Linked DNA regions of Homo sapiens: regions 2, 3, 4 and 5 are each linked to region 1. The links come from fine-mapping of genetic effects on gene expression. A gene starts in region 1. Each other region holds a variant in brackets. All regions are shown on one strand. Distances are from middle to middle.

Region 1 (5,104 bases):
TTCCGGGGGGTGGAGGGGTCTTTGCAAATGTGTTCTCACTCGCAAGCAGGGGAGGGGACGATAGAGACAAGATAGGAGACCGGAGGGGTCGGGGCACCGCTGGGTGGGGCGCGTGCGCGTGTCGCAGCCCTCACTGTGAGTCCCTTTACCGACGCGATCTTGGTTTTGAGGGGTGGGGACCTGGAGCGAAACCCCAAACCCGGGGCCCTGCTTGCAAACTCAGCATATTCTGTCTCTACTCCGCCTTTTTCAGAGGAGAAAAGACCTGGCCCACGCCTCCCAGAGGCTTTACCTGGTGAAGAGGAGGAGCAGCCACTGCAGCGCGGTGGACAGGGTGTCCTGGCTGGCGCCGAAGATGTCAGTGATAGTGGCCGGTACGTTCTCCAAATCCAGCCGCGCGCCACCACCGTGCGAGTCCCCGGCCGCCTTCTTTTCCGCAGAGAGGATAAAGGCGTCCATCATGTCGCGGGGGGCGGCCCCGGGCCGAAGGCTTTCGCAGTGCCTCAAGAACTTGTCCAGGATGAAGTTGCTGAAGTTGCGGTTGAGCTGCTCGAATTCGCGGAAAACGGTGCGCACCGGGTTGGGGAAGTACTGCAGCCAGGGCATCACGTCCACCAGGCTGCCCGCGCCCACCGTGCGCCCGAACTCTTCGTTGTGGCTGAGCAGCTCACGGAACTCGGGGTCGTCGTGGCTGTAGCGGCAGCCGAAACACACGGCACTCATGACGTTGGCCACGGCCACGACGGTCAGCGGCCTCGGGTCGAGGAAGGCGCCGTCCGCGCTGCCGCGCACCAGCAGCGCCACCAGCTCGCGCGCCTCGCTCAGCACGTGGCCCTCGAGGACTTGGCGGCTGCGCGGCTGGCGCGTGAAGAAGTTGCGCATCATGCTGTGGGCTGCGCGCCGCTGCACCTTCCAGTGCTCCGAGTAGTGGCCGAAAGCCATGCTGCGGCCGCCGGACACCACACGGAAGGAGGCGAAGGCCGGCCGGTCGGCGAAGGCCGAGCCCTGCTGCACCAGGGCCTGGTGGATGGCGCGCTCGCCATTCAGCACCACTATGGGGCAGCTGCCCAGGCGGATCTGGAAAACGTCGCCGTAGCGCCGCGCCAGGCGAGCGAACGAGAGGTGAGCCGCCTGGCCCACCGCCGCCGCGTTTCCGATCAGTGGCCACGCAAACGGGCCCGGGGGCGCGGACCGGAGCTGCCGCCTCCGTTGCCTCAGCAGCCGCTGGCCCACATGCACAGTGGCCAGCACCGACAGGAGTAGCAGGAGCGTGGTCTGCTGGATGGACAGCGGGTTTAGCGGCCAAGGGTCGTTCGGGCTGAGGCTGGTGCCCATGCTGGGGACAGAGAGGAGAAGGCGTGACACTCAGGGGTGCAGAGACAGGAGCGGGCGCCCCACGCCCCTACCCCAGCCTCTGGGGACTGAGTGCCGTTGGGTGGAGAGGTCGGAGCTGACTCTCTGGAGAAATGGCCGAAGACGCCCCTTCCCATCCCCAACCCACTCTCCCTTGGAGAAGAGAAGGGGCGTGTTTCCACCTCGCTGTAACCCAGCGCCAAACCCTTCCCCTCCCCGCAAGGCGCGTAACGGTTCCTGCAATCTGGGGACAACGCTGCGGGCATCGAGGCGGTGGCGCTTGATTTCCTTTAAAGTACCTACCACGCCACCCGCTACCTGTAATAATCCATCTGAAGAGGTCGCCGGGCAGCGCCTCGGCAGACAGACTGACCTGCGGGGAGGTGCGGTTTCCAGTGGCGCGGGACAGCCGGCTCCGAGAAGGAACTGGGACCTTTGCCTAGGGCAAGACGTCAACAGGAACCCGCAGGCCCGGCCTGGACACCTGCTGCCCTCACTGGAAGCTTTAACTCCCACTCGAGTCTCTTGGCGTCGTCAGTGCCAGGAGCGCTTGGATTGGGATGGGGACGGAGAAGGGTGCCTCGCTCGCCGAGCCCCGCTGCCCTTGGGGACCTGGCAAAGTCGAGGTTTCCTCACAGCGTTGAGATTGAGACTGGGGGTCGGTGAGTGGCGTCAATTCCCATGCCCTTGCGGCTCTCACAACTGGAGTCGCAGAAGCGCTCGCTCCCACTCCCACTCCAGAGTCAAAGCGCGCCATCCCGCTCCTCCGGGTTTTAAGGACTGGGTAGAAGGAGGGCAGCGCGACCTGGCAGGGCGGGGCCTGCGGGGGGCGGGGCGCGCCGCACACCAGGCCGCTTTGACCCGGACTCCCGTCCAGGCGCACCGGCCGGCCTCGGAGCTCTACCAGCAGGCTTTCATGGGAGCGGAGGTGCCCACGTTTCCATTGTGCGGTAACCGCGCTTCATCACAGCCACCTCCAATCGAGGCCGCACGGTGTCCCCAGAACCACGCTCGGTACAACCTGCCCCGGCCGCTGCGCTCGACTTGGGAGCGCGCCCCGCCCCGAGCGCACGACCTCCCTTCCCTCTCCGCGACTTGAGCTTGCTTCCCGGAAAGCCAGTGTAGTGGCAGCGGTTTGCCTCACAGCGCCCCTGGTTGGTTGTTTAAATTTTATCTTAGGTTCTCGCAAACAAATTGCCACCTCAGTGGAGGCTCTTTGGCATGCTAAATTTTTTCCAGTTCTTGCGGCGAGATCAGGAATCCCTAAAAGTAGCCGCTCCCCCGCCCCGGGGCCCCGACAGTGCTTGGGCACACAAAGGCTCCTGGGGCGCAGCTGGCCCTGAGATTTCCCGCGTAGAGGCCACTCCAGGTGGCGCCGCCCGCTGGTGGGCGCGGGGCCGCCCAGGCTGCGATGGAAGCCGTTGGCGCAGGGCGGGGAGCCAAGCTGGGGCGACTGGGGGGGCCTGGGGGAGCTAGCGGGGCGGGACCCGAGCGGGGCGGAGAGTGGCAGGAGGAGGCGAATCTCCGCGCTCCGGCGAACTTTATCGGGTTGAAGTTTCTGCTGTCGCCTCCCCTTTGCGTGCGGAGCTGGGCTTTGCGTGCGCCGCTTCTGGAAAGTCGGCTCCAGTCATATCCCTGGGCGCTGCCTGCGGCCGCTCCTCCCGCGCTTCTCACGGCACCTGACACGCGGAGGCGGCGGCCGAGGGTGGGGTGCCGGCCACCACCACCCTTGGCGTGGGGTGCCGGCCGCCACCACCCTCGGCTGCGCACGCACAGTCGCGCCTGCCAGGCCAGCGAGGCGGACGCTTGGGCCACCACCCGCAGGCCGAGCCCGGGCGCGTATCGCCACCTCGCTGCGCACCGGCGGCTCTGTGGTCTTCCTGGGCGCGCTTGCGGTCGCGAAGGGGGCCCTCCCTTTATAAGGGAAGCCGGAGGCGCTTGGGCGGGGGTGGCTTCCCCCGCCTGGCGCGCCCTTTCCTACATGCTGATGCATAGGATTTTCAAGACAGCTAAGAGAACAAGGACTTCACGAGGCGGGGGGAAGGGCGAACTCGAGGGAAGAGGTGGGATGTATCTGGTTAACCAGGTAGGAATTGTACTGGCTTCATCAAAGGATAAATATAAAAGTGATAGGTTCACCAGGGACAACCCTGCACTTTGAGCTCCACTCGCGCTGCGAATCTCGTGCTATTATTGACCTGTTTACAGATGAATAAACTAGGGTTCAGAGAGGTTGCGTGACTTAACCCAGGTCGCGCAGCCATCAAGAAGTGGAGCCAGGGCTTGAAGCCACCAAGTCCCACTCCAGATCCTTCACATAAGTTTACACGGAAGAAAATTGCAGATAAGAGGCCCAAATGCCTTCTTTCCTGCCTCCCTTAAAAAAAAAAATGCACGTGGGGCTAGGCGCAGTGGCTCACGCCTGTAATCCCAGCACTTTGGGAGGCTTAAGCGGGCGGATCACTTGAGGTCAGGAGTTCGAGACCAGCCTGGCCAACATGGCGAAACCCCATCTACTAAAAATACAAAAGTTAGCCGGACGTGGTGGTGCACACCTGTAATCCCAGCTACTCGGGGATCAGGGGGGAAGGCAGCAGAATTGGTTGAACGTGGGAGGCAGAGGTTGCAGTGAGCAGAGATTGCACCACTGCACTACAGCCTGGGCAGCAGAGTTTAAGTGAGACTCTGTCTCAAAAAAAAAAAAAAAAAAAAAATCAGCTGGAAGAACTTTTTAATTATTGTTTTTGTTTTCATAATTGAGAATTCTGAGAATAGCAGAGAAGAAATAGTATGCTAACCCTTTGCAATTAAATTGCTTATGAGGGAGGCCAGGGGAGTGTGCCTCATAGCTGACCCTGGAATGACTGATTACATTGTAAAGAAACACAAAGGAGTGTCTGAAAAGAATCTGACTTCTTGAGAGATTGAAACCAGCAATCAATTTGCTGACCTGATAAAGAAATGTCTTTTCGTGATGGCTTTTTTTATTTTTATTTTTATTTATTTATTTTTTTTGAGATGGAGTCTCACTCTGTCACCTGGGCTGCAGTGCAATGGCGTGATCTCGGCTCACTGCAACCTCCGCCTGCCAGGTTCTCCTGGCTCAGCCTCCCAAGTAGCTGGGATTACAGGTGCGCACCACCACACCCGGCTAATTTTTGTATTTTTCTAGTAGAGATGGGGTTTCACCATGCTGGCCAGGCTGGTCTCAAACTCCTGACCTCAGGTGATCCACCAGCCTGGGCCTCCCAAAGTGCTGGGATTACAGGCATGAGCCACCGTGCCCGGCCTGTGATGCCTTTTATTCGGTATCTTTTGAAGAGTTTTCTGGAAATGATTTCACACACCATGATGGGGAACTTAGATAGTGATGGAGTTTTAGTTTTTGAGCAGTTGCATTGGTTTAATAATAAGCGTTGGTTTCCCAGAGGTGAGTTGGCCTACACAGCCTTTGAAATGAGTTTCATAGCAACCTTCCCATGTCCAGCTTTAGCAAGATCCTTGCCTAATAATTCAAGACTCTGGTGCATGCATCAATCTCTCATAGACTTTAATTTAGTAGACGGGAATTATCTATGAGCTAATGCCAATCCTGAGCTGTTGACATTCCTGAAAGCCTTTATCACAATACCTCTGCCAGAATGAGAGCAGATGGAAGTTGCCTTTAAGTAAATTCCTATTTTTAAAAAGTATAAAACGAGGTTGTTCCTAAGACCGCCTGTCCAACTCCTCAATAATGCCATCTAGTTTT
Region 2 (5,104 bases), 140 kb after region 1:
CGCCAGAAAGAAACCCCATACTCATTGGCAGTCACTCCCCATTTCTCCCCAGCCCACACACAGCCCCAGGCAACCACCAATCTACCTTTTATCTGCACAGATTTGCTTATTCTAGATATTTTGTATAAATGGAATCATGTAATACATAATTCTTTGTAACAAATTTTTTAAATTTAGCATAATATTTTCAAGATTTATCACTATTTTATTTCCTTTTATTGCAAAATAATATTCCATTGCAGGGATACACCCCACTTTGTTTATCCATCTACCAGTCATGAACATTTGGGTTGTTTCCATATTTTGGCTGTGATGAATAATGCTGCTATGAATCTTCATGTACAAGGGTGTTTTTTTGTTTGTGTTTGTGTTTGTTTTTGTGGACATGTGTTCTTATTTATCTTGGGTGCAATACCTGGAAGTAGAACTGCTGAGTCATGCAGTAGCTCTGGGTTTAACCTTTTGAGGATTTACTAGGCTGTTTTCCAAAACTGTTGCACCATTTCCCATTCCCATCAGCAATGTATGAGGGTTCTAATTTCTCCACATCTTGATCAATATTTGCTATTACCCATCTTTTTGACCTGCCTTTTTGTACTCACCATGCTACTGAGTGCAAAGTAGTATCTCCTTGTGATTTTGATTTGCATTTTCCTGATGGCTAGTGATGTTCAGCATCTTTTCATGTGTTCATAATGGGTCTTTACTTTTTAAGATAATGGCAGGAAATTTAACAGAGAAAAGTATCAACATAGATAGAACTCCACAAGCACCAATCGTTTTCTATGTGTCAAATGTACTTCTCACTTGAAGACTGGAAAATATTTTTGCTTAAATTATGACAACTATCTGTCTCCTCCAGTATCCACCCCTCCTTCCCAAATCACCTAACGCCATTACTATGTTTCAAATTGGGCCAAACTCTAATGCAAGAAAGATGTTTTCTTCATTAATCTGAAAAACAAATGAGCTCCAAGACCTAGTCAGTAACTCACTTTCTCAACAAATGCCAACATACCAGATCATCCAAATGGCACAAGACTGCCACTCCTCACAACCCTGGAGGGCAGGATTCACATGGCAGTCTGTGTGCCTAGCATCCATGGGAGGCAGGCCCCCCACAACACACCTTTATTGGACTGCATCCCTGTGAGTAGTTCTTTGGTCAATCATGGGAGTGGTTTTGCACTGGCCCAATGGGCATCTACATGGTGGCCAGGTAGGGTGTAAGGGCAGAGTTAGACTGGCTTCATGGATCTGTTCTGTTTACCTAACCATTGATTTAACAGGCTTGCCTAGAGGAGTGGCCACCCCAACATCTACAGGAAGTACTTCCTCAGGCACAACCAGTTACTGATGACAGCTCTGTACAGTGGTTAGGAGCAAGAGCTGGCAATGACTCTTTGATCAAGGAGTCTTGATCAAAGCCCTTCCCCATCTTCTGCAAGCTCCATGATCTTACAAAGATTCCTTTATGCTTCTGGATCTTAGTTTCCTCCTCTGTGAAACAGTGTGATTAATAATACATCGCTCAAAGAGTTGTTGTGAAAATTAAGGCAACAATGTATATAAAACATTTAGCAGAGTGCTTAGTACATAGTAGGTCCACAGCTGGTGTTTTTATTATTTTTATTACCAGCAGTCCACTATTCACAAGGATTTCTGGCTTCCAAGTCTTCATATTAACTGTTCCCTTTGTCCAGAATGCTGTTTCATACACTTTTCCCAGTTAATTCCTACTAATCCTCTAACCTGGCTTACAGGGACCCCTCCTGGAACCCTCCCTTCCCTCTACTCCCAAGAGTAGGTGCCCCACATATGAGCTCACAAGCTCCAGATGGTCCATATCACCCTGTCTCCAATCGCCTGTGTGCTTGTCTGCACCAGCCAGCAGACACTGGGCTCCCGCAGTTGGTGGGAACTCCATCAATATTTGTCCTCGTTTTGCCGGTCCCTGAATCTGAGTAGCAGCCTCTTTGCCATCCTCAATGCCTCCTTCAAAGGAAAAGAATCTAATATTTTCTGAGTGTTCACCGTGTGCCAGTAATTTCCCTATGTTAGTTCATTAATTTGCCTAATAGAAGATTGGGTGAGGTAGGCATTTCCCTGTTTTTAGGATAAGGAATCAGTGGCTCAGGGGGTTAATTAACGGAATTAACTAACCACAGTTTGCCTAAGGTCTCACAGGCACAGGGCTGAGGCTGGCACCCAGAGTCAATGTTTTTGCAACACATCCCCAGAGTTTTGCCCTGTCTTATGATTCAGTCCCAATTAAGCTACAGGGATCCACAGGCTCACTCAACTACTTTCTCTCTCTCTCTCTTTCTTTCTTTCTTTCTTTCCTTCCTTCCTTCCTTTATTTTTCTTTCTTTCCTTCTTTCTTTCCTTCTTCCTTTCTTGCTCTCTTGCTTTCTCTTTTCTTTCTTTCTGTCTCTTTCTTTTTTATTTGACTTATAAGCTACAAACATTTATTTCTCATAGTCTGGAAGCTGGACGTCTGAGATCAGGGTGCCAGCAAAGTCGTGTCCTGGTGAGGGTGCTCCTCCAGGTCGCAGACTGCTACCTTCTCCCTGTGCCCTCATAGGGTGAAGGCACCTCAGCTACTTCTTGTTATCGGCCGCCTGAAAGAATACATTTTTTCCCCCGTATGCTTTATTATAAAAACACCCAATACTTTACTAAAATGTGCTCCTTCTGTCTAGCTGGTTTGGGATGTTTAGGAGGAGTCAGGGACAAATCCTCCCTGGGGGCCTTTCCCAGGGAGCGCTGAGGTCTGGTAGTCAGAGACGGGTCCTCTGGGGAATCAGAGATGAAGATGACAGAGGAAAGGTGGAGGTTTGGCAGGGAACAGCAGACAATGGCTGTGGTTGTGCCTCTGGCTGATGGTTTCCTGAGAGGCTTTGCAGTTTGAGCTGTTACACATCTGCTCTGGGTCAGTGTCCCCAGACCTTCTCTGTGCTGCCCCAGCCCTGCCAGCAGGCAGGACTATTCACGAGGAATCACATGGGATTGTAAACCCCTGGGGCTTGGAGGAACCTCTCCTCCTCATGGGGAGACTGTCATAAAGGTGGCTGCTTCCAGGGAAAGGCTGTGGCTGTACACAAGGACTCATTTTTC[T/C]GTCAAAATGAAGAACTCCAGAAGCGCACATGTATTTGGCAGCGCATCTACTATTCGCCAGCATCTGTTTTGTGCAACATGATTGTTAATGAACTGAAAAGGATCCTGCTGCTGCTGCTGCTGTTATTTTGAGGACACAGGAAGCAAAATCAGGAATTCATTTGTTCCTTAGTTTGTTCAACAAATCTGTACTGAGCACCTCCTCTTTGCAAAGTAAAGAAGAGAAAAAAATGAGATGAGGTTATGTTCTGGGTCCTCCAGACAAGTGTTGGGGGAAAGGCTGTATTTGTGAGGAACTGTCGTATCTGTGCATCTCATGCACATTGAGCCCTCAACAAAGGAAGGGACCCAGCTACAGCAAATCGGTCTGCAACGAGGAGGTGAAGAGTAGAATCTCCGCAGGCCAGCAAGCAACAAAAAGCACTCCAGGTGGAGGGAAAAGCATTAACAAACGTGGAGAAGGGAAAGCAGAACATATGAGAGAATTGCAAGTGATTTCTTTTTGACTGAAACAAAATTATATGAAGGAAGGAAATAATTCTGGCAATGCAATTGGAGCAGGATCCTAAGGGCCTTGAATGTCACACTAAGAAGTTTGCAAGCCACCAAATAGCTTAAGTAAATGATAGAGTGTCCTGACTGGGACTATATTTCAGAAAGATAAATTTGCAAACAGCATACAAGATGGACAATGGTCAAGGTGGGAGAGAATAAAACCAAATATAACAGAATCTGATAAGAGGCTTGCATCAATCAGCATAGACTTAATTATATTATAGTAACAGACAACCCTCAAATCATAGCAGCTGAAACAATAAGCGTTTATTTCTTGCTCACGCTATATGTCACTTGTGAGTTGGCTAGAGGCTCTGCTCTTCATACCCTCTCTCCCAAATCCAAAGTGTCAAAGAAGCTAGGATTGCAAATACTGCCAGATGCTTTGACAGAAGGGAAGTTACCTCATACCGTATACAAAAATGAACTCAAAATGGATCAAAGATCTAAATTTAAGAGACTAAATTATAAAACTACTAGAAAAAAACATAGGGGTAAATCTTCATGACCTTGGATTTAGCAATGGATTTTTAGACATGACATCAAAAGTACAAGCAATCAAAGAAAAAATAAATAAATGTTAGACCTCAACAAAATTGAACACTTTTGTGCTTCAAAGAACACCATCAAGAAAGTGAATAGACAACCCAAGGAATAGGAGAAAATATTGACAAATCATATCTGATAAAGGACTTGTACCTAGAATACATAAAGAACTCTTACAAGTCAATAATAAAAAGCCAAATAACCCAATTTGAAAATAGACAAAAAAACTGAACAAGTATTTCTCCATAGAAGATACACAAATGGCCAATAAGCACATGAAAAGATGTCCAACGTCATTAGTCATTAGGTAAACACATGCCAAAACCATAATGATATAGCCACTTCACAACCAATAACAGGGCTGTAGTTTTAAAAAGTCAAATAATAACAAGTGTTGGTGAGGATGTGAAAGTATTGAAACCTTCATACACTGCTGGTGGAAATATAAAATGGCACCATCACTTTGGAAAACAGTCTAACAGCTCATCAAAAATGTAATCACAGACTTTCCATTTGGTCTAGCAAATCCACTCCTAGTTATATACCCGAGAGAAATGAAAACAGGACAAGGCATGGTGGCTCGTGCATGTAATCCAAGCATTTCAGGAGGCCAAGGCAGGCAGATCACTTGAGGTCAGGAGTTTGAGACCAGCCTAGCCAATATGGCAAAACGCCATCTCTACTAAAATACAAAAATTAACCAGGCATGGTGTGTGCCTGTAATCCCAGCTACTCAGGAGACTAAGGCAAGAGAATCGCTTGAACCCGGGAGGTGGAGGTTGTGGTGAGCCAAGATTGCGCCACTGCACTCCAGCTTGAGCAACAGAGTGAGACTCCGTCTCAAAAAAAAAAAAAAAAAAAAAAAGGAATAATAACAGGTCTACAC
Region 3 (5,104 bases), 120 kb after region 1:
AGGTCATGTTCATCCACAGCACAGCCTTGACCTTAGCAAGAGCAGCAGGCAGATTGAGTGGATTCAATTCCAAGATTGTCTCCTATTTTGTCTCTTTAGGCTTAAATGCTTTAGCACCATTTCAAGGGAGAAAATTCACATCACAGAGGACAAAAAAAGCTGTCATTCTTTCTAAACACTAAACTTATTGTCATCTTAAGGTCTTGACTGTTGGTGTTCCTTCTGCTTATTTACATTCACATGGCTTCTTCCTTGTCCTTGGTCAAGTCTCAACTCAAATATGATTCCCTCCAAAAAGCCTTTCCTTGTTACCCCAATTATAGCAGTTTATAATCAGCCCCAATCTTAACTCATCTGTAGTGAATTAAATAACATCTCCCAAAAATTCACCTCCACCAAAGCCTCAGAATGTGACCTGATTTGGAAATGCCATCTTTGCAGACATGATTAAGGTAAGGATTGGAATAAGATAATCCTGCATTAGGGTGGGCCCCAGATCCAATGAGACTGTCCTTAAAGTCCTCCACAGCCTAACTCCAGGCTACCTCGCCAGTGTGGATTGTCTACACTGACTGCCTGCTCCTGGAAAACTGATCTTCCTACCAACCAAACAGCTGGCTTCAGCTTCTCGCCATGCAAGTTCCTGCCACATGCCACTTCTCTACCTAGGAAGTTCTCCCTCCTTTCACCTGAACCTGTCCAAATGTTACTCTTCCTTCAAAATAGGGCTCCAATCTCAAAATTTCTGCTCCCATGGGGTCTTTCCTGATGCCGTGCTGCCGGGCACAATCTCAGGAGACTCCAGCACCACTGTTTACACCACCCTTGTGTGTGTGTGTGTGTGTGTGTGTGTGTGTAAGTGGACCTCCAATGGACTATGTGCTCCTACAGAACAGGAGCTGTATTTTGAAGTTGTTTTGTTTGTCTACTTGTTTTGGTTTTGTTGTTAGTGTTCTTTTCTTTCCAGGCCTTGAATGCTCTATGGACTATGTGACAATATGTAGAATAAAAGACAGATTGCTTGGTTACATGAACAGATTAATAGCATGTTACTTCGCTCCACCCTAAAGCAAGTCCTCTCAGCCACACCCCACTGCAATGCAGTCTACATGTGACTTCTTGGCCATAATTACCAAATGGATTCAGAGGCAGAGAAGAGGGAAAATGGCAAGTCCCTTTTCTCAGGCTGCTGAGATAATTTGCTTAGAGGACTTAAGAGGTAGCTCTTTAGGATTCCCAGAAATAATTGGGGAAATATTTGAGGGTCCCACACAATCAGGGAAGATAGTAAAAAAATACTCACCACTTTACTTTGAGGTCACTGTTGCTGCCATCATCACCCCAGAGTTGTTTCCTACTCTTGGTTATCTGGAGTCACACTGAGCTCAAAACAGATGGCCCTGAAACTGCTCTCTGAAGCAGTGAGCACACACCGTCTAAACACACAAATATGCGCATGCACGTGCACACACACACACACACACACACACACTTGTATGTCACCACTGAACTAGTAACCCCAAGCAAGCTGACCAAGTGCTCTTCTCCTGAAGTTTCAGAGATTTCATTGCAGAAACACAATTTACTTTTATGAGCAGCACTTCTGTCCCAAGGCCTCAGACTAAGCTGGTAAGTACTGATTCCAGGACAAAATGTGACCCACATCCCGAAGTGTCCTGCATTCCTCTTTCTGCCCCTTATAGGTTCTTTACCTGCAAACTCTCTCCCTCTTGTCCAAAACATTTTACCTGCTCTGTCACCTTTGCATGATCACAGGTCCTTCGCGTTCCACAATCAGTTATTTCCGTACCAGGTTTGTTTTATCACTTTGAACCTTAAAACACAGGGAACAAAATTTTACCCACTGTCAAACTGAATCTGTCCATTGTGAGATGCTACACCACTGAATTTTGCTGTGCATCCGTCCAATTGGAAAAGGAATGAATGTGAAAGTTTCATTTAAAACACTCCTTCATGAAACTCTCTGTGCATCAAATAACTGAAAGCCCAAACCACTGATCAGTTAGTAAAGCTGTGAAGCCCTCTCAATTGTCAGAAGCAATTTGAAATTGAACTGAAAAATATCTCACGGTCTCTTAGAAACAGACACGAATTGTGGTTTGTAACCCAATGTGGAAATAGTTACGGAGAAAGTGACAACCTCTTGTGAGGTGTGTGCGCTCTTCCTCCAAGTTCTTTGTTCTAAGGTCAGAGGGCTGATCACCTCACTGCTGCCCTACATAGTCCCCTCAGCACCAGAAAATGCTCACTTACCACCAAATTTACTTCCAAACTGTAGTTTATCAGAATATAATTTTATTTTCTGAAAGAAGTGCTTCAACTTTGTGTATTGGCACAAGATAACTATAAACAATACCAAAGAAAACGGTCCCCTATAATCTGGCCATTTATGGACACAGCACCAGAGGGAAAAAAACTTTAAACATAAATTAAGAAAGTTCTCTGTAAGAGCTCTTGTTGAATTATAGCTGACAACAGTACACACAGCACAGTCACGCCACTGAATTCTTTCCAGCTCCAGCTCCATAATTCACCTTCTCCCACATGTCCTCTATTCTTGAACTTAGAAGACTTTTCTCAATAAGGGTCACTAAGGGGATCCCAGTTGGGAATAGAAGAACAAAAAAGTTTAGTAACTATTCCAAGAGTCATAACATCGTAGGCAATAAATGCTGCATTTAAAGACTACAGATTTAAGATTGTGAGCAGCTTCTACCAGACACTGCATTACCCTGGTAAAGTCACCTGCCTTCTTTGAGCTTCAGTTTTCTCATCTGGCAGTTGTTCAATGGGTTTAGTCATTTGCAATCATTTTTATTACCTTCTAA[G/A]GTCCCCTTTAGGTACTGTGATGGAGAGGTAGACAGACAGAAAGATGATAGATAGATAGATAGATAGATAGATAGATAGATAGATAGATAGATAGATAGATGATAGATAGGTGGGAAAGCCTTAAAAACTCAAAAAAGTAAGGAAGGATGATCCCAAGAAATAAGAGGAACCAGAGCTCTTCTCCCTGGGTCTGAGAGAAGCTGGCCCAAGCCATCCTTCCCTGAGTCCTATCCTGCTCCTGCTTGGACTTCCCAGGACAGAATCCTCCCTGCTATGTGTGAGGCAGCCCCAGGCCCTTTGTACTGCTCCAGAGGTCTGGGGAGCAGTGTTCGAATGGGAAGAAAAGCATCCAAAAAAGAAAAACCAAAGAGCCAATGCCATAAATATGTAAATGCCCTTGAACTCTACTGAGAATTCCTCTGTGCCCCAATAGTTTCCTCCCCTCCATGTGGGTTATATTCTATTTTCCCAGGCATGGAGTAAGGGAGAAGAATAAAATTGGAGCTGGGTGGTGGGGGAGTAGCCTGGAAAAGACACTTATGAATGCAAAGAGGCCATAGATTTCATTACCAGGTGCATAGTATCATCAGCTCCCGGTCCAATGCTTACTCATAGCACAAGCTGATTAAATGGTTGTGGAGGAAGGGAGGGAAGGAAGGAAAAAAAGAAGGAGAGAAGGAAGGAAGGAAAATTGGTTCTTATGCTTTCTACTGGAAACTTTTTATCTATTCAAGGAAGAATTAATTTTTGATGTTTACTGGCTATATATTTTGCACTCTCCACCTTGCCACCACCACATATTTATACTGTGACCAACCTAGCTGAAATGAACTTATATTTTAAATGAGTCATTTTGCAGAGCAAGTAATAAATCAGCTATCAGGAGTAAGGAGCTCTCAGCAGGCCATACTGCTCCATTGCCAGGAGGGATTATTTTAGTAGTATCACACTAGGATTTCTGAATTTATGCCCTTAATTTATGAGACATTCATTGCAGGGGCTTTCCCAAGTGTTATTTTCATAAACAGCAGATTAATATAGGGGCTTTTTCTTGCATTTCTTTGGAAAAATCTTGCCCCCATGTAGAATATTCAAGCTCTGCTACCTATAAATAAGCTAATGTCTTTCCTCTGGGCTGTTGTCCCTTAGCCTTCAACATCTTCTAGTCTGAAGCAAAAATCATGCTTCATTTTGTTTTGCTATCTTTCTAATACAGTAAGAGCTTCAGGTCAAAGAACTGAAGAGAATGTGAGAGCTTGACCCTCTGTTATGTTTTTCGTTATTTGTAGATTTTCCTTATGCACTTGCCCTTCTGTGGAATCTTTCCTCTTCATTCCCTTATCCCTATTAGGATTCTACCAATTTATTGTTCTAACCTTGAAGAAACAGCTTTTTATTTACCTTCAGCTGTAGGTGGCCCACCAGGTGTCAACAACTGTAGAGTTCCATCAAGAGTCATCATTTTACAGTTACAAGTCGGAGGGGCCTTCACAGATCCGTCAGGCTCAACACTGCCTCCTTAGTGAGCCTGTGAACCACCCAAGACGGCTGGTCATCAGTGTCATCCTCTTCCTTTTCCGGACAACTATCTTTAAAAGAAAAAAAAAGAGTGTCTTTGAATGTATCCATTTTATCCCCAAATAATCTTGTTTAATAAATTCCTTATTAGGCCAAATCCAATGTGCTGAAATATCTGCCAAGCATGTCATTCTACACAAAAGGGATTTGCAAATAGCCAGTAGTTGGCGTGAAGAAAGGACATGTGAAAGCGCTGGGTGTGGAATTTCCCATCCTCGGCCGGAGGTCTACTACAGCTCGCTGTTTGCAGATCTGGGCTGAGCTATGCATCACATTGTTCATGAAAGAAAAAGCAACTGCTCTCCCCAGTGCCCCTTCCCCGCTCCACATGGCTGCGATCAGCAGCCCCAAGACCCTAATTGCCACAGCCTATTAGAAATAATGAGACTTACATGGCAGAAGCCAAGGGTAAAAGCGACATCTCGCAACACGAAAGGTTAATATCAACATATACAGCTAGTGAGTGCAAAGGGCACCTCAGTTGGTGGCTCATTATGGCGGGCTGACCCATAGGGAAAGTGTCATTCTGCAGAGAGGCCTTTCTCAGGATGTGGCAGCAAAAGTTACAAAAGATAAGGACTTGCCTGTGAAACGCACTCAACTAATGAGAGCTGAAGATTGTTTGAAATATCCCGATGACCTCACAGATGGGGGATGCTGATTAAGATGGCTACAG
Region 4 (5,104 bases), 87 kb after region 1:
TGAGAATCTGTGTTTAGGGTATTTTCAGGAGAGAGGAATACACTTACTTGCTCTAAGGCCACACATCTTAAACCGAGATACATCTACTCTGGGAGGTTTGCAGCTGGAGTTTTCAGCTGAACTTTTAAAAACTTTGTTTAAAATAAGTTGCTTTACATTGGAACTTAATATCCTCAGTGGATTGAGATCGACATTCTGGGAATTGAAATTGTGTCTGGAGAAGAGAAAGGAGCAATGTTGCATTTTGCAGTAGAGGCAGATGGGCTAGGCAGGGATGGGGGAAGTCTTCTGAAAGGAAAGCAGTGAACAGTTGGGGAGGGGTTCAGAAATGGAGCTAGGGGACCAACCACAGAAAGGGTGGCCTACTTTGGGATTTTTCTAGCTGCAGCATAAATCTAGTACATCTTTTTATATTGAAACTAAATACAGATATGAAATAGAGCTTCATCTGGCAATGGCCTCATGAGTGTTGGGCAAAGCTGCCTTCTTCTGAGGCTGTTTCCTTCAGGCACGGGCTTGGGCTCCTCTTCTCATTCCCTCAAGCCCCACTCTCTCAACTCAGGTGCCTTTGTCAGCTTGACATAAGATCCTTTAATAAACCTAATGGCAAACATCAACGGGAAGCAAAAAATCCAGATCTCAACTATGGCATGAATAGTTGCAAAAGATCTAACTAAAGCCACCCAGCCACAGTGTGGCTTCCTTTCTGCACAAGTATTCTTGCTTCCTAAAAAAGGACCAACCTGGCTGGGAACGCTGGCTCACGCCTGTAATACCAGCACTTTGGGAGCCTGACGTGGGTGAATCACGAGGTATGGAGTTCAAGACCAGCCTGGTCAAGATGTGAAAACCCGTCTCTACTAAAACTACAAAAATGAGCCAGGTATGGTGGCGGGCACCCGTAATCTCAGCTACTCGGGAGGCTGAGGCAGGGAATTGCTTGAACCCGGGAGGCGGAGCTTGCAGTGAGCCGAGATCGCGCCACTGCACTCCAACCTGGGAGACACAGCGAGACTCCGTCTCAAAAAAAAAAAAAAAAAAAAAAAAAGGACCATCCTATACCCCATTCTCAGCACGTCATTCAGGTACTGGACAGACCTTAGTCTTAAAACCAGCATGCCTGGAGTGGGCTCTTACCCTCTATGGGCCTCAGCTATGGGGGGAAGAAAAGAAAAAAAAAAAAAAAAGCGTTAAACTAGGGACTCACCAAGGGCCCTTCCAGCTCTAGCTCTCTTCAATTCTACATACAGCATTAAAGAATTTCAGGATATATCTCCCTGGCTTGTTGTTAGTCTCTTTTTACTTTCTCCAACTTTCCCTAAAGCAGGGAATAGCAAAGAATAGCAAAGAAACTTGGTGCTGATCTGCAGAGAGAGCCTCTCCTCAATCAGAGATTCTGAGCCAAGGGGTTTGTGTGACCTTTGGAACTCAACCACAAAGCCCTGGAAGAACTGGTTACCACCAGGACCCTAGAGAACAATCCCAATATAAGCCACACTTTCTCTTGTTGTTCTCCTATCTCCATTTTTGAACCTCTCCCCAACCTTTTACTGCCTTGCCATCTAAGTCTACTGTAAAAATACAACATTTCTCCTTTCTCCTCTCTGTCCCAGGCAAAATTTCTATTCCTAGGATGTTGATCTCAATCTGCTAAGAATATTATGTTCTAATGTAAAGCAACTCTTTTTAAACACAGAGCTCAACTCAAAACAATCTTCAGTGATCTACCAAAAAGGAAGATATTTTGAATAAGAGACTTCCTTCAGATGAAATCAGTATAATTAATTCAAATCCCATCCATCCTCTCTTTATATAATCAAACTTCACAGCAGGACAGAGATAATATGGGTTAGCCAAGAAGAGAAAAGTTTTCAGTCCTAGAAGAAAGAAGGTCTCTGCTATCACCTCATAATAGCTTTGGGGCTACTCCCTCCAAGATCATAGAGCTCGTCAGCATAAATCATAGAGGAGCTGTTTGCATGCAGCAGAGGGACCCAGAGTGCCACCTGGCATGGTCCAACCTAAGAACCTAGGTGAGAAGCATGGGAAGCCAGGGGTTGCCATGAGAATAAAGGTAAAGAGACACAGTTTGTCTAATTCTTGGGTTTGCTTGGGGTCAGCTCTGCGTGTCGAAATACCCCCTTCCACCAATTTTCTAGGCTTGGCTTGACTCCACTTACACTCCCGTAGATTTCAGCTATCATCCCTGCTTCCCTCTTGGGAGTTTTTTTTTTCCTCTTGGGAGTGTTATTTAGGCTGGGGAGAACTTAATGCAGTCATCATGTTGATTCATTTTCACAAATACTTATTAAATGTCTGCTTTTGCACAGCTCTGTGGAAGGGCCAGAGTGGTATATAATGCATGATCTCTGACTTAAAGGAACTTGAAAGTAACCTGTGCCCTAACTTTGTTACCGACAGGGAATGATTTTGGAGGTTCTGGGAGAAGCAATCTGTTAGGTTGGTGCAAATGCAATTGCTGTTTTTGTCATTAAAAGTAATGGCAAAAACTGCAATTACATTTGCACAAACCTGACACTCCTGACACCTGAGAGCCAACTGCCAATCATTCCAGGATACACTGTGTGCACTTTGCTTTCTCACTGCAATCTTCTTTAAGCATTCATCTATCTCTCAATTTCCATCTAATTGAAACTGTGGCAGCAGCATTAGCAGCTGGTGGTGGTGGAAGACCTCCTGATTCCAGAAATTTCCCAGGGTGGCCCCCTACAGTTTGGATCTGCTGAGGAGCATGTGGAAATTCAAAGGCATGCTCTCTTATGGAGAACAGTTTGTTGGCAAAACATTGCCCGTTTGCTGCACATCTGTAAACTGAAGTAGACCTGTCTTTCTCGACACATTAAAAACTGGTCAAAAGCTTCACTGGCTAATTAGGTTAGTGATATGGTTTAGCTGTGTCCCCACCCAAATTTCATCTTGAACTGTAGCCCCCATAATCCCCACATGTCATGGGAGGGACCCAGTGGGAGGTAACTGAATCACAGTGGCAGGTTTTTCCCGTGCTGTTGCCATGACAGTGAATAAGTCTCACCAGATCTGA[G/T]GGCTTTATAAAGGGCAGTTCCTCTGCATATGCCCTCTTGCCTATCGCCATGTAAGACATGGCTTTGCTCCTCCTTTGCCTTCTGCCATGATTATGAGGCCTCCCCAGCCATGTCGAAATGTGAATCTGTTAAACTTCTTTTTCTTTATAAATCACCCAGTCTCGGGTATTTCTTCACAGCCGTAGGAAAATGGACTAATACAATTAGTTGCAAAATTAGGTTAATCACCTTCTCATTGAATGTAACTTCATCACATATATATAAATGATATATAGTGTACTTCATATAAAAATGGTTATATATACATACACACATATATATATATATATATATATATATAATGGTTTGTGTACCTTCCCTGAGAATGTGGGCAACTGGAGAACTCTGGCCATGGGTGCAAAAGGGCCTCCCTTGCTGTTCCATGATGGTGCTCCCTCAGGCCCCTCTTCATCTCTCCTCTCCAGCCCCTCACCCTCTGCCTGGGCTCAGGCCCTCATCTTCTTTTTCTTAGATTACCTATTCCAACAGCCTCCAAGCCTGTCTGCTGCAAATCCAGTCTGTTTACAACTTACATCTGACCATGTTTCTCCCCTGCCTCAGAGCTCCCTGAGACTCCCCATTCCCCAGAAGAGAACATCTGAGAAGCCTTACAAAGTGCTGTCTGCCTCTTCAATATCACTTCTGCCAACCTGCTGCCTTGCAGATGGGCAAGAAGTCCCTCACACACCCCAAGCTGTTGCTCAGCTTTGTGGCTTTGCAACTGCTGTCACCTTTTGCCCTCTGCCTATGCTTCATTTGGTTAACCCTACTCATCCGTGAAGGCTCGGCCAGGGGACTTCCCTGGCTGATTGCTCCCAAAATATGCTGTGATGGATAGCACCATCAGTGTGCTTCCATGAGGTATCGTAACTAACTGTGCAATGGTTCTCTCCTCACCGAGGACTGTGAGATCCTAGAGAACAGGGAATGGGTATTAGTCATCACATCCCCAACATTAAGGACAGTGATTTTGCCCCCCAGGGGATATCTGGCCATGTCTGGAGACTTTTTGGTTGTCATAACTAGATGGGGGTACTACTAATACCAACTAAGTGGAGGCCAGGGATGCTGTTCAACAGCCTCCAATGCACAGGACAGCCTGCATAACCAAAAGTTATCTGGCCCCAAACCGTCAATAGAAATCTTAATCTAGGACAAAGACTACAAACTTAACGCTGCTTAATGAATGATAAAGTGAATATATTTTACTGAATGAAACTCTGCCCTTAAGTAAGGTCCACGTGACAATTGTTGGATCATGGGAAAGAATTCAAGTAAATGTACTCCTTCTTTAGAACAAGTAATGGCATAAGCCTAGTCTTTTATTGTGGATTTAAGTTTGGCTCCAGTTAACAAGGTATTTCACGTTATCAACTGAGCAACTAGGAATAATATACCGAAGGCTATTCTCTACATAGAGTAAGAATTTCTAGACTAAAATAAAGTCAGAATGTCAGAAATAAAACAGGTGTTAAAAATCATCCAACTTGAGCTACTGATTTTATAAATGAACACTCCAGGTCCTGCATGATAAAGTGACTCCCCAAGGTCACCTAGCTAGGAGTGACAGGGCCTGGGGCCAGTGAAAAGAGAGCTTGTGTTATGACTTCACCAGAAATGAATATGAGACTACTGGGTCCATCTCTGGGATCCTAACAGAGATTAGGTCAGGGCTGGGGGTTTGGGAGAGGAGAAGAGAGAAATAGAGATAGCTGGGAGGTAGGCTTTGTTACATGTCTTGGTTTCTTTCCTGAACAGTCGGACCTTTCCTCACATCTCATGGCTACTGAATTTGAGGACTGCCTAGTGCCAAAGTCTGTACCTTGATACCTTAGATCACACACAATTCAAACTTTTCCACCTTCTGGGGTCTCTCACTGGCAACACTATTAAAATTTTGGGCAAGACGATTCTTGTTTGCAGGACTGACTCTTTGGAATACCTGGCCTTTGCTCACTAAATATCTGTGGCATCTCCAGGCATGATTATTAGAAAACAAGCGA
Region 5 (5,104 bases), 180 kb after region 1:
ATACTTCAAATCCTTAAGATAATATAGTACTATAAATGAGACTATTTTTAAAAATCTATACCTCAATTTGTAGAAGGATAAAACTCATTTTATGGAAGGTAAAAGGTAAGAGTCTGTTCTAAGAGTACACAGGCTAATAGTGTCTCCTAGCCTTTGAAATCCTTTTTTGTTTTGCTCAGATTTCTCATGTATACCCTCTACAATCAACAGTGTCAGTTTTCCTTCATGTTCCTTCCAACAGAGCCCTAATTTCAATTATAGGGTCTGTTTTTGTTTTTGTTTTAAATTCTAGGCTCTGTGCTTGTTGGGGATGATAGATGTTTGACAGCTTTCTCGCTTTCTTCTAATGTAATTGGTCCATATAGATATGTTATCATCCCTTGAAACTTATTTGGTAAATTATATTATCCCTATTTATATATTAGCAACTTTTAATTCAATACATCTCTCCCTGATCTTTTTGTCTCTTTGCTTTGGGTCCTTGGTTTAATTACTTTTAAAATTAATTCTAAAATATTTGTCTTTTTTTTTTTTTTTTTTTTTTTTTTGACAAGGTCTCACTCTGTGGCCCAGGCTGGATTGCAGTAGCATGATCGTGGCTGACTGCAACCTTCATCTCCCAGGCTCAAGAGATCCGCCAGGTGCGGTGGCTCACGCCTGTAATCCCAGCACTTTGGGAGGCTGAGGCCAGTAGATCACCTGAGGTCAGGAGTTTGAGACCAGCCTGGCCAACATGGCAAAACCCTGTCTCTACTAAAAATACAAAAATTAGCCAGGCGTGGTGGCATGCCTGTAGCCCCAGCTACTCGGGAGGCTGAGGCAGGAGAATCACTTGAACCCAGGAGGCGGAGGTTGCGGTGAGCTGAGATTGTGCCACTGCACTCCAGCCTGGGCCACAGACTGAGACTCTGCCTTAAAAAAAAAAAAAAAAAAAAAGAGAGAGAGAGAGAGAGAGACAGAGAGAGAGAGAGAGAGAGAGATCCTCCCACCACAGCCTCCGGAGTAGCTGGGACTACAGGCATGCACCTCCATGCCCAGCTAATTTTTTTGTACTTTTAATACAGACAGAGTTTCGCCATGTTGCCCAGGTAGCTCTTGAACTCCTGGGCTTAAATGATCCACCCACCTTGGCCTCCCAAAGTGCTGGGATTACGAGCCACTGTGCCCAGTCATATTTTTTTTTTAAATAGACTTTATTTTTTAGAGCAGTTTTAGGTCCACAACAAAATTGAGCAGAAAATACAGTATTCATATATACTCCCTGACTGCATGTGCATATAGCCCCCACCCCACTATCAACATCCCCCACAAGAGGGATACACGTGTTATAAATGATGAGCCTACAATGACAAATCAATATCACCCAAAGCCATAGTTTACATTAGGCTTCACTTTTGGAGTTGTACATTCTATGGATTTGGACAGATATATGGCATGTATCTACCATTATACTATCATAGAGAGTAGTTTCACTGCCCTAAAAATCCTCTGTGCCCCGCCATTTCAGCCCTCCCTCCCCCAAACCCCTGACCACCACAGATCTTACTACTGTCTCCATAGTTTTGTCTTGTCTAGAATGTCATATAGTTGGTATCATATGAAGCCTTTTCAGATCGGCTTCTTTCACTTAGTAATACGCATTTAAGGTTCCTCCGTGTCTTTCCATGACTTGATCGTTCATTTCTTTTTAGCACTAATTAATATTCCATTGTCTAAATGTACCACAGTTTATTTATCCATTCACCTGCTGAAGCATATCTTGGTTGCTTCCATGTTTTACAGTTATAAATAAAGCTGCTCTAAACATTTGTGTGCAAGTTTTTGTTCATTTGGGTAAATACCAAGGAACATGATTGCTGGATCGTATGGTAAGGGTATGTTTAGTTTTGTAAGAAACTACCAAACTGCTTTGCAAAGTGGCTCTACCGTTTTGCATTCCCACCAGCAATGAATGAGAGTTCCTATTGCTCCATATCCTTGCCAGTATTTGGTGTTGGCAGTGTTTTGGATTTGGATTTTGGCCATTTTAACAGGTAAGTGGTATGGCCTTTTTTTTTTTTTTTTTTCTTTTTGAGATGGAGTATCACTCTGTTGCCCAAGCTGGAGTGCAGTGGCACAATCTTGGTTTACTGCAAGCTCCACCTCCCAGGTTCAAGCGCTTCTCCTGCCTCAGTCTCCCACGTAGCTGGGATTATAGGTGCCTACTACCATGCCTGGCTAATTTTTTGTATTTTTAGTAGAGATGGAGTTTCACCATGTTGGTCAGGTTGGTCTGGAGCTCCTGTCCTCAAGCAATCCATCCACCTCAGCCTCCCGAAGTGCTGGGATTACAGGCATGTGCCACCATGCCCGGCCTCATTCTTTTTTAATGTCATAGTTTTATGACATGGGCTGCAACATTCTTCTAGAGTCTGCACTTCATTTGATATTTGTTTTTCCTACTACTTTCCTTCTTTCTTCTTGTAACATCTTTGTATATTAAAGATCCTGTGATGGCTCCTTTTTTATTACTTTTTACAGAAACAGTTGATTTTTTTTCCTGTATCAGCTTTTTGCTTTCTTACTCATGTGATTTTCCTGTATTAGCCAACCAATTACGGTGAAAATGGTGACACAGAAGGACAGGGGGAAATGGGGCAACTCATAGTTCCTTTTCCCTTCAGTTGTTCTTTTTCCTTTCCTTTTCTTTCAAAAAAGAGAGAGGGTCTTGCTCTGTTGCCCAGGATGGAGTGCAGTGTTGCAATCATGGCTCTCAGTCTTGAACTCCTGAGATCAAGCGATCCTCCCAGCTCAGCCTCCAGGGTAGCTAAGACTACAGGCCTGCACCACCACGCCAAGCTAATTTTTAATTTTTTTGTGGAGATAGGGTCTCACTATGTTGCCCAGGGTTGTCTCAAATTCCTGGCCTCAAGTGATCCTCCCCTCTCAGCCTCCCAAAGCACTGGGATTACAGGTGTGAGCCTGTGCACCCAGCTCAGTTTTTCTTTACTCATCAGTAAGTCAAAGGTACAGACTGTTGGTAGAAAGTCCTCATACAAAAAAATGAAATGAAAACAATCTGAGCTCATTTTGTATAGCATTTCCATTGTTCTGGCAAACACAAAATATATATGAAT[G/A]TACAAACTGAGAAATATAAATTGTATAATTTTAGTGATTCTGCGTAAAATTTAAATGTTCTTCTATTTACATTTAAAATTGCCATTTTATGCTAATATCATTAAATTTTAATTTTTCTTTTCTTAGAACAACAATAAATTTTAAAAACTTCATGACAAGTCGAGAGGGAAAGTACAGAGGAAAGGAAGGAATTTTATGTTTTAGTAATTTTCACATCATTTTTCCTTGATTTTCGAAGGAGGGCCTTGCATTTTCAGGCCCTGCAAATTATGCAGCCAACCTTGCATAGGAGGTTAGTGCTGGAAAGACCTTAGAGATTATCTAGCTCAATCCATTCATCAGACACAAAAGATGGACTGAGAAAGATGAAATGATATTTTGCTTAGGAAATTAAAAGGGGAGAGTAGGATGGGAAAAACTTCCTCCATCTTCAGATCTTCAGGAGTGAACGGTGGTTTCACTGAAAGACACTAAGTCCACGGGGAGCCGCACCTCTCAGATCTGTCTCTTTGCAGGTTGTCTAACGCCCACTCCCTCCCGTGTTGATCTGGGCTTCTCTCACATTAGAGGGCAGTAGAGCCAAGTACCCAGATCCTTTGCAGCTGCTGCATATTTTGGCCCCACGTCCACCATCCTGGGTTTCCCCCTGTGGGTGTCCTTCCCACACATTCAACATCCAAGCAAGGTCCTACACCACCAAGAGAGTCCCGCCAGCCCTGGGCACCTACGGGGACTTCCAGTGGACACGTATTCTATTCTTGGGAACTTTCGGTTTCTAAGAAGTCCACAAAGCCTTTAAAAGTTTGGAAAAAGAGTTGAAAAGAATCGTAAGAGGTAGGATTTAGAGGAGAACGGGGAGTCCCGATGCAACGCCCTGAGTCTTCCTCCCTTAGACAACTTTTTCCTTCCTGTGAAGACAGTATGCAAGGAAAAAAAGAGAGTGCTAGAACTGAATTGGGAACAATGTAATGTCTTTTTCTATTGCTCTGGCAAAATCCTTGCTGAGAAACTGAGAAGTGTTGATTCTGAAAGCTTTTTTAGAAATTCTTTCCAAGGCAACTTAATTCAACAACACATTTAACAAGAGTCTTTTGTCAGACATCCTGTCCTCTGATATTTTAGAAAACACCACACACACACACACACACACACACGTGCACATGCATGTATGCACACACACTTTATTTTCACTTTTCTTCCCATCCAGCCCAAGGCATGCCCAGAGCACAGCAAAGCAACGCTTGGAGCTTTGAAAGGACACCATGTCCTTTCAAAACATGATTTTGAATTCCATCCTGCCTTCTCTCCACCTACATTAAAACTCTTGAAGGACATTTTCTTCTAATACTGTCTTTTTTGGGACTTCTTCATGTTGCCTGCAAATTATCTCTTTTCGAATCACAGCGTTTTGGGCACAGACCATCACTGCCCACGGAGTGATGAAGCAGACCGGGGCTGTGGTTACAGAGTCAGAAAGAAGGGTCTCCTGCCCCAGGGACCACCACACCCTCTCCCAGCATTCAAGCTGCCCAAGCTTTCTCAGAAAACATCTTTCCAGGCCATCACCAGCAGCGGGTTTTACCAAAAACGTCCCACTCTCTGGCTTCCTTGCTGATCTGTGGGCCTTGCTGGATCCACCCGCTCACGCACGGCCCTCCCCACAGACCTCTGCCTCGGCTGGATTCTTCCCTTCCACTGGCTCTTATGTGCTGGACTTCTGGATTCTCATTTGCTTCCTGAATTTTGTCGCCAGGACTCAGAATTCAGTCCTCCTGTCCAGTTCTGCTCTTGCGAGAGCCAACTCACATGCAAGCCCTCAAATCCTTCCTCATTGCTCTGAGGCTGGTTCTGGAGCACTTCGGCAGGGCCTGTATTCTAGCATAGTATCATAGTGCTTGCCTCCCCCACTAAAATGAAAATCAGGGACAATGACTCTTTCTCCAGGCCTCCTCTTCTACCCAAATACCTGGTGCTGGACTGGTATGCC

Direction of the effects. Positions count from the first base shown, and alleles are read on the strand shown. Sizes are in standard deviations (SD) of each study's normalised expression. Not every link is listed here.
With allele A in place of G in region 3, the expression in sigmoid colon of the gene that starts at base 2,098 in region 1 is lower (small effect, 0.31 SD a copy in GTEx).
For the expression in subcutaneous fat of the gene that starts at base 2,098 in region 1, T is the low allele of the variant in region 4 and G is the other (moderate effect, 0.45 SD a copy in TwinsUK).

Evidence for each region. PIP is the estimated chance that this variant, and not a neighbour inherited with it, causes the effect. A credible set is the group of variants that fine-mapping cannot tell apart.
Region 2: its variant is the best candidate, but not a certain one, in a credible set for the expression of CYP1B1 in uterus (GTEx, PIP 0.63).
Region 3: its variant is the best candidate, but not a certain one, in a credible set for the expression of CYP1B1 in sigmoid colon (GTEx, PIP 0.66).
Region 4: its variant is the best candidate, but not a certain one, in a credible set for the expression of CYP1B1 in subcutaneous fat (TwinsUK, PIP 0.57).
Region 5: its variant is the best candidate, but not a certain one, in a credible set for the expression of CYP1B1 in whole blood (INTERVAL, PIP 0.67).

Annotation. Positions count from the first base shown.
Region 1 is chr2:38,074,054-38,079,157 of GRCh38, forward strand. CYP1B1 (cytochrome P450 family 1 subfamily B member 1) reads right to left here and starts at 2,098. Exons shown (of 3, transcript NM_000104.4): 1 at 1,727-2,098; 2 at 293-1,336. The coding sequence starts at 1,335. RefSeq lists a promoter at 2,079-3,454, cis regulatory regions at 2,093-2,100, 3,021-3,050, silencers at 2,094-2,183, 3,094-3,213 and an enhancer at 2,921-3,119.
Region 2 is chr2:38,215,758-38,220,861 of GRCh38, forward strand. The region is part of intron 1 of LOC102723739 (a long non-coding RNA gene); the gene reads right to left. Among named protein-coding and RNA genes, the nearest start is that of CYP1B1-AS1, 87 kb to the left of the region's middle. The variant T/C (reference allele first, on the strand shown) is at 3,118.
Region 3 is chr2:38,198,251-38,203,354 of GRCh38, forward strand. It overlaps LOC102723739 (a long non-coding RNA gene), which reads right to left. Exons shown (of 4, transcript XR_007086289.1): 2 at 4,252-4,439; 3 at 1-1,834. Among named protein-coding and RNA genes, the nearest start is that of CYP1B1-AS1, 70 kb to the left of the region's middle. The variant G/A (reference allele first, on the strand shown) is at 2,850.
Region 4 is chr2:38,161,221-38,166,324 of GRCh38, forward strand. All of the region lies in intron 2 of CYP1B1-AS1 (CYP1B1 antisense RNA 1), which reads left to right. It also overlaps a transcript of LOC107985871 not described here. Among named protein-coding and RNA genes, the nearest start is that of CYP1B1-AS1, 33 kb to the left of the region's middle. The variant G/T (reference allele first, on the strand shown) is at 3,062.
Region 5 is chr2:38,256,895-38,261,998 of GRCh38, forward strand. No RefSeq gene overlaps it. Among named protein-coding and RNA genes, the nearest start is that of ATL2, 120 kb to the right of the region's middle. The variant G/A (reference allele first, on the strand shown) is at 3,117.